2 linked regions of the Homo sapiens genome follow. The protein of the gene in region 2 purifies or fractionates together with the protein of the main gene of each other region. This does not show direct contact. Each region holds a gene or a part of one and is shown on either strand. Other genes may lie near its edges.

Region 1 (3,500 bases), on a different chromosome or scaffold from region 2:
ACCGCGCCCAGCTAATGTATCTTGTTTTCTGAGAATTCCAGAGGTGTTGTATACTTTCTGAAGATGTCTTTCCCAGGAGTAGTGATCACCTTGCTTAAGAAGTTCTTACCTATGTCCTACTCAAATCTCTTTTACTACTGCAAATATTTTATTTTTCTTTAAAAAATATTAATAGCTCACCTTGCTTTATTTTGAATGTAGAATCACTTTTGGTGGTGTAATCTTACATGTTTTGGATTCCTTATAGGCTGATCCCAAAGTTGTCAGATGGAGAGTAAATACAAGGAGATACTCTTGCTAACAGGCCTGGATAACATCACTGATGAGGAACTGGATAGGTTTAAGTTCTTTCTTTCAGACGAGTTTAATATTGCCACAGGCAAACTACATACTGCAAACAGAATACAAGTAGCTACCTTGATGATTCAAAATGCTGGGGCGGTGTCTGCAGTGATGAAGACCATTCGTATTTTTCAGAAGTTGAATTATATGCTTTTGGCAAAACGTCTTCAGGAGGAGAAGGAGAAAGGTAATGTGGGAGTTCCACACCTGCCCCGTCCCTTTTTCTGCCAAGCCTGGGCCTTTCCTTTCATGGCATCCCTGGGATATGACCCCCAGTGCACATTGTTGGAATTTGTTTGCTAACTTAGTGCACCTGTCTCTTTGCCCCCTTTTACTGAGAATCGCTTCTAGGAAGTGTTTGTTACAAATTCCACAAATCCATTCCAGCCTTTGTTTGCATCTCTTCTTCCAGCCTTAGGGTTACCACTTCCATTTAACATCTTTTCTCCTTGCCCATCTTTGTCTCCAGTTCAGTTGCAGTGAATATGGACGTAGAATTTCAAAGTTAACTTCTCCCAACTCCATTTACACAGTATGTAATGCTGTCACATTCTACTGAAGTCTTGAAAGTATAAATTATTGCATTGGAAAACTGTAAACCAGGATATTGAGCACCTTTTTTCCTTCACACAGTCTGTCTATTCCTCTCCTTGTCCCCAGCTTTCTGTGGTCCCAGACTATCCTTCTTTAGGCGATGATCTCCTCCTTCTTCAGAAGGGAGGGAGAATCCACCTTCAGGGATTTTCTTTCCTCTCTATCTCCAGTACAGGTGACAGTATAAATTACCCACAACACAAAGATTTTTTTTACATTATTCAATAAATCACTCATCTCCATCTGAATTATCTACATTTAGTTTAAATTCCTGATTTTGTTTACTAAGAACAATTGATATGTCCCAGCTTTATGTCTGAAGAACAAAAAGGAGCTAACAGAGGAGCATATCACTCAAGGACTCTCCAAAATGAAAGTCTCCAAATGCAACAGTTTTAGGATTCAAAGTACAACAGTAGCAGCAAAAATTATAATAGCTTTTAGTAGCATTTGTGGGTGTACAACAAGGGTGACATGGCTTCTCACACATGAGTTATAGGAAGGCTAAATGAAGCCACATAAGTGATACTATGTACATTCATAATTCTATACAGATATAAACTGTTAGGTAGTTTCTAAGGCACTAAAGAGAAAGGAGTGGTGGTTTTCCCAGGCTTTAAGTTAGAAGGTGTAGTTCTTAGAGATGGCCCTTAGATGGCAGTAACTACACATGTTACTTCCAAGTAACCAACCAAAACATTGCCCTGTGTTTTTCTTATCTGGGATGAGCCAGGAATCTAGGCATATTGGCAAACATAGGCTGAGATATTTAGAAATATCTTTTATTTTGGTAATAAATCAAGAATTAATTCTTCTCTTTGACCAGGATAGAACAAAATTTCCCCTTCTACAATCTTCTCCCCATTTTGCTATTCTAATGATTCTGGGATTTTGTTATTCTGCTTAGCTAAAAAAGATCCAGTTTGGGACTAGCTTGGAAACTCAGGAGTAGATTATCCAAGGACTCTCCCAAATGAGAGTCTCCAAATGTAACAGTTGTAGGATTCAAAGTATGCTTTTGGGCCAGGCGCAGTGGCTCACGCCTTTAATCCCAGCACTTTGGGAGGCCAAGGCGGGTGGATCACTTGAGTTCAGGAGTTCGAGATCAGCCTGGCCAACATAGTGAAACTTTGTCTCTACTAAAAATACAAAAATTAGCCAGGCATGGTGGCGGGCATCTGTAATGCCAGCTACTTGGGAGGCTGAGGCACGAGAATCACTTGAACCTGGGAGGGAGAGGTTGCAGTGAGCTGAGATCACACCTCTGCACTCCTGCCTGGGCAACAACAGTGAGACCCTGTCTCAAACAACAACAACAACAAAACACAAAGTATGCTTCTTGCATGCTATACAAGAAGGCAGTTAAGTTCCTTCATAGCTCTAAAATTCTATCCACGGACATACTTAGGCCGCTTTTGAATGTAGGAAATTTTTGTGTGTCCATGCTATTTCTATTATTTTAGGAAAACAGTTTTTGTTTTATTTTTTGAACAGTTAATCTGTCATTCTTGGTTAAGTGATCCTTCTCCATTGCCATTGCATGTCTGCATGTAGAGTGCTATATGCTATTCTACTCATGACCTCACCTCATGGAAGGTAGAAGATACCTGGAGAATCTTTAATGAAGACAGAGGCAATAATTAGTAGACAGGAGAAGCTTTTGTATGAAGCAAGATGAGAAAATATAAGGACACATAAGCGTAGAAAAAGGAAGCTAAGAGAAAATGTGATCAAAGTCCACAAAAGTCCTGCAAGATTAAAATAAAATGCTGAAAATGATAAATGAAATAATCAGTAACAATGTGCACCTGATTATTAAGGCAAATGAGAGATTTATAATTGGCAGACAAGCTTGTCCACAAATATTGCATTGGTACCACAGTGTGTGAAATGAAATATGGCTGATGTGATGTGGTAGAATGGTAGGTTGATTCCTTCCGCCTCCCTTGATGCTGTTTTCTCTCCGATGCTGTGAACATAGAAGAGAGACTTTATCTGCATACCTTTCTGAAACCAATTTCATGGAACTAACTTACCATTGGAAGGTTAGTTTAACTTCTTCCTAGTGCAGAGATCCTGCTACAATATCCCTGTCAGACAGTCAACCACTTTCTGATCTTTGAAAGGTAATGACAGAGTACCTACTACCTCATAAGACAGTTCATTCTACTCTTAGCTCTAATAATTAAATCGTTTCTCTTTTTAGTAAAATCAGTGATTGCCTTGCTATTTCAGTCCAGAATTGTTCAAATTCTATCAGAAATAACATCTAATAATTTCCCAGGCCCTCTTCTGCCTGAGAGTGCCTTAAGTCATCAAACATGGCCATCTTGTTACATGGTCTTTTTAAAAATCAGGAGTAGGAGTTGGCTTTTCACGATAACATATAACCTGACCATAGACGTGGAGGAGCCCAGCCAGAGTATACGACTGCATTTTGTAGGCATTAGTGAGGAGCCAACATGCCACCCATCCATCCATTTCTTCATCCATTCAGTAAATATCCATTGAATTGCTAATAGGTACAAGGAAAGCTTTTAGGTTCTTATGATAAAACAAGGTTT
Region 2 (5,579 bases):
GCAAATGATGAGAATGTAAGTATTTTGTGAAGCCCACCTTTGTACAACTTTCAACCTGGCTTCTGCGGCTTCAGAAGCCACAGACTCATACACATCTGTATTTCCTACAAAGACAGACTAGTAAACATGGCTTTCTTAGCTTCAGACCTAATAGAACCTGATTGCACAGATCACTTCAAATCAACTCTAGAGCCACGGAGTCTTATGCTGGGCTGGGCTTAATCTAGATTTCTAAGTGGTTTGGGACAGCAAAAACAAACAAACAAACAAACAAAAAAACAGTGGCATAGTCCCAAGAGTGGACCATCTGAAATAGAATATAAATCTCCCTGAGTTATTTAGCTTAGTCAGAACTAGGAAGGCAGATTTCAGAGAAAATGAAATTAGATAAGGAACTCAGTACTGGGCAATGTCAGTGGACAAGATAGTCTGCTATATAAACCATGTTCCAATCTATAGAAAAAATGATACTTCAATAAGCAGCCCAAAGCTTAATTAAGGATGACAGAACATGCCTACCTCCTTCACTTTTGCCATACAGTGAAATAATACAGTGGGATGTGCTCAAATTTCAAGAGACCAAATTTTCTCCACTATTATGCCTCCTAAAGTACACCACAGAATTAGCCAAGAAGATTTTTCACTTTCAGTTTTATTAAAGACACATTGTTTTAAATTCTACCAAAGACAATATTCCATTGAATAGTCTAATTGTTTTGACAGGGTGATAAGACTGTAACCTCTGGCAGTTAAAAAGAGAATGATGACTTAGTAAGAGTCAGAATCTGAGGTAATATCTCTCAGTTCCAAATATTTAGAGGGGAAATGGTTTATTTAAACCCTTGATGTATCACTGGAATCTGTAAATCTCATTAAGTAGAAAATCTCCACAGCCTGGAATACTAAATTTCTGCACTGTCAGGATGCCCATTCTCTGCAGTGTCCTCTGGACCCAAGGTGACAAAAATTTTTGTAAGGATATAGAAAAAGAACTCACAGTGCAGTGTAAGGCCGTCATTAAACAAAGATGTCCAAAAATTTTTTAAATGTAATTAACTGAAGGAAATTAACAGACTAGCTTCCCTCATCTCAGTATCCTAAACAGACTCTAGAAACTAGCTTTCAAAAAATCAGGTGAGTGGTATTTTCAAGTTCCATATATATCTTAATTTCACATTTCCTTGTCTTTTTCTGTTCATCATCCTTCAGATGGAGAACACAAGAACATCCTTAAATGAACACAAAACTTCAGCCTTAAATAAATTTACAGAATAAAATTGTTGAAAGTACTGACAGTCAAGATAAATTTATTCTGAGCTTGGAATAAGGTAAAATGATAGATTCTTTTTGATATCATGTAAGAGTATTTGTAATAAGCCAGTCTGACATTTAGGGAATGCCACAGTATATCTGACTAACAATTCACAGCAGAACAGTGCAGATATTTTATGGCCCTGTGAGTTTAGAAGTTAACCTGCAGAAAATGATGAGCCATTAAGAATTTATAGTCCAATAGAGAAGTAACTCCGAAAGGTTAAGTACCCATTGCCCTGTAGAAAGTTATCTTATACTTAATTTAAAATTTTATTTTGCAGTCCCTTTCAACTGATTCTATTAATGCTGCTCTGCAAATGCTCTTAGAACCAGCTCCGTGTCATCCTGCTAGTTTCTTCATTATTAATGTAAGTTTGGCCTGTCCTAACAACTTTAAGAATTGTGCTTTTACAACAGCAAGAATAGATGCCACTACCTAGTAATTATATTTTAATGTAATCCTCTGACCTGTTCCAGGGAGTTACAAAATCAAATGCCTACGGGGGCTAGAAAGGTAAAATATAAAAAGCAAGCTGAATATAAAATGATAGAAAAGCAGCAGCTCATGTTGTAGTCGTTTTAATATCCGCCTGGTAACATTGTTTTTCAATCCCTTGTGCTGGCAAAATAAAAAACAAAACATTTGCAATTCCAGTAGTGGAGCCTGTGAGTCAGCGTTTAGTGTCATGCTTCCTCAGCCTATTTAAAATATCCTGGAGCATAACTAAAAGCCATAAAGCCTAACTAGCCCTCAGAGCACTCGTGAAAGTCAGATTCACAGAAGCAGAAACGTAGAGGTCAGTGTACATCATTCTTCCTCCATACTTCCCCCACACCTTTGGAACTTGTAAACCTCAAAATGCTAGGGGTGTAACCTCCTCATAAACCTACTCAAGACAGATTATATCACACTTTCCTCTATTTTTCCGCAGCTCTTTATGTCTTCCTAACAAAGTGGATCTAGTTTGGAATTGTTTACAAAGCCATCTTTCTGGCTGAAATCCAAGCACAAAGCCTAAGACAAGGATATTTGTGGCAGCTACTCAGAATGGCTTCTGGAACTAAATTTTAATTTTCTGCATAACCAAGTCCTTCAATAAGAAATAACATGACAGGAAAAACCAACTTAACCTGAATCCGCAACCTAGAAACAAGTTCTCTGACCACAGATAGAGCTTGACTGGCTCCTTGGTACTATGATTCCTAGTGTTACAGACACATGGAAAACATCACCTCAGCAGTTTATAGAAAATAGAGCCATTACTGCGTCAATGATGGACTTCAGAGTTAAGCCTCAGGGGTGCCAGAAATTTGAGGTTTATCTATAATATTTACCTCATTCTTATATAGGTACCAAGAACTTACCTGTATTGGTACTTTAGAACACCAACTGTAGAGTTAGAGCTGGAGAAAGTTACAGCATAAAAAGTAACTTAATGCAATGACTTTAAACTTTTAAGTTCCTAAGAATCCACCTCCAGGTCTAAAACATGTCCAAACTGCCAGGCCTCACTCCAGAGATGATAATACATGTGAAACCCAGACATTTCCATTGTTAGTTAACAGCTGATTCTGATGAAAATGAACTGAGGCATATTATTTGAAAAATACTTTCTTAAAAGACTGCCTATCCAACTCCTCATTTTACAAATGAGAAAGATGAGGTCTAAAAAATACAGTATTTCCGGCTCTATCGGCCTTTTAGTTAGACAAACACTATCAAGACAGGCTCATCAGCTCTTCTGGGTTCACTGAAGTAAAACCAGAAATTCAGGAGTTTTGATTTGGTATCAGAATCTCTGATACACAGTCTCGGTAAATGAAGAACTATATCTGGAATGGGTACCTCTAATACAACCTGGGCATGGAATAACTCTCCAAGAAATCAGTGCATTCTCACAGAAGGGAAAAGTTACAAATATTTTCCTTCTTCTTACAGACCTGAGATTAAGTGTATACCTTTTATAATATGTTGCTCTAGGATTTATTTCAAAGTCATGAGCATGAACTAGAGAGAAAGAAAGGTTGCTTAAGGTACTTATTAAATTCATTGGTTTGTAGTTATATACATGATACCAGGACTTCCATCGAGACTGTCCTCTATTACCTGCGTCATGGAGGTGGAGCTGCTCCTCACTCTCTGAGAATGGAGGAGTCCTGGGCCTGTGTCTCCTTTTTCTGTGCTCACCTTGCCCATGGTCCCTCCCATATACAACTTCCTTGCAGTGAAGCCCTGCTTTTTGTGAGGACTTGGGTGAAAGTCGATCTTGGTGTCGAGACTGTTTTTCCCAATTTCGAGTCTGATGGTTAATCTTAGTCTCCCAGTCATCACATTCAGTGCTCAGAAACACTTCACCACTGATCGTGGGAAGCAGAGGTCTCCGAGGCCTCTCCTGAGTGGACCGTTTCCTTTCATGCTGCTCATTGTTAATATGGGGATTGTCCCTCCCTTTGCCCGAGCTAGAGGATGACAGGGATCTCTTCGATGAACAATGTTGTTCTGGCTCTTCCAAGTTCTCCAGTGGATGTTCTGGTTTCTCTTTCTTGTGCTTCACAGTCTTTCCATCTCTTTGGAGTCTACAAGGTCTTGAGAATCCAGAACCCAATTCCCTGGCCCTCCTTGACCCTGGTTGGTCTGAGTGGAGGCAGAGGGATGTGAAAAATAAAAATGCAGATTAATTTAATGAGAGTTATGAACTCACTACACAGGGGGGAGTCTGGGCTCCAGTTTAACGTACTTTAAAAATGGAGAAAATTGCTTTTTCAACTTAAATTGAGAAGAGGGGATGAGCATTACTGAAACAGTTCATGCATACCTAAAGAATTCTGGGTACATAGCCAAAATGGTAAGAAACTAAAGTGAAACAAATGTGAAAGAAGAGCTTGATCACGATTAGGTAGAGCTAACAACACTTTAATATTTGCCAATAACAAAATTATAGCCATTAAACATTAAGTTCTATTTATAAACCAATTTGAAACTAGTATAGAGTAAAAAGTAGAGGTTGAGGAATCTTGTAAAACAAAAAAATTAAGCTTTGTAATTTCAGACAGAGGCTTTCAAATATTCTTACTGGAAATGCCAATAAAACTATCAGAATATTGCTAGTTTCTCTTGAGTTCAGAGGAATGATCCACAGATTTTTATATGCCTCCATCTGCCCACTTTATGTGGCCAAAGCAAACATACCCAGTCACTTCAGAAATTAGCCCTCTATTACAGTTCAATATAAAAGAGGATCAAGTAGATGAGAATTTTGAGTTCATGACCCTGTTATCTGTAGATAATTCTGTTCTCAATCTTAGTTGAAACTTGGCAAAGGAAAAAAATTTAAAGGGTTGCCTTGATGGAATATATAAAAAGGAGTCGCTTCCTAAATACATTTCAAAAAACTGTATGATATTGTATTCTTTGTAGAAAAATATAATATATGCTAAGTATATGTCCCCAAATTTAATATAAACTTCAAAAACAGCACAAAAATAATTCTTTTTCAGGTCTTTTTTAGGCACAAGTATAATGTGAAGACAAAGGCAGCAAATGCATATGCACTTTATAAGAATATACTGATTTTAACATTTTCTAAAACTTTTACTACGTTTTGGAAATAACAACGAAAAATCCCAATTCCATGGAAAATTGCTATGAAAGCTAAGATTCCCCGATGGAATTAACCACTTGCTGAACTGCATTTGAAAGAGCTACCGTAAGTTGATGAGATGTAAAGAAAATAAAAAACTATACGTTTTCCTTTAAACTGTTTCATTTGATATTAATCTGTTAAAGGAACAGAGCAAGAAAGAGGTATGTGCTAAATGTACCAATTATGTAAGTTTCCATTAAAAACCTCAAATTGTTTCCTCTTGTGCTTTCCAGAAGAAAAGAAAGCTTGCTTCCCAAGACAATACTAAATTAAAATTTGTTTTCTAAACAGTCTGTAGAAGTATTTATCTTCATCATTTATGGGTAAGTTTTATTTTACATAAAATCAAAAGCAAAACAGAAGAATTACCCGGTGATAAAAACAAATTATCTGCTCTTTTAAATAAACTATTATTTTAAGACTATCGTGACAACATGAGAATCAAGTGACTACTGCTGTAAATTTATATAATACAGACCAGCCACTTAAATGATGACCACATCCGGGGAACAATGGTTTACGGTGTTAATAAAAATGTGCTCACTCAGAGTTGCACAAGTGAAGTCCACCTTCCAGCTCAAAATAAACAAAAAGAATTGGGTTTTGACATGAATTTGTGAT

What was found. Proteins that work in one complex are often made in the same cells at the same time.
Region 1: the proteins of CCDC50 (region 2) and AIM2 purify together in Homo sapiens (affinity purification with western blotting; one study listed by BioGRID). This does not show direct contact.

The regions. Positions count from the first base shown.
Region 1 is NC_000001.11:159,070,267-159,073,766, reverse strand, and holds part of AIM2 (interferon-inducible protein AIM2), read left to right. Parts: intron 1-247; 5' UTR 248-267; coding exon 268-529; intron 530-3,500. UniProt on the Homo sapiens protein: Sensor component of the AIM2 inflammasome, which mediates inflammasome activation in response to the presence of double-stranded DNA (dsDNA) in the cytosol, leading to subsequent pyroptosis.
Region 2 is NC_000003.12:191,373,432-191,379,010, reverse strand, and holds part of CCDC50 (coiled-coil domain-containing protein 50 long isoform), read right to left. Parts: intron 3,950-5,579; coding exon 3,422-3,949; intron 1-3,421.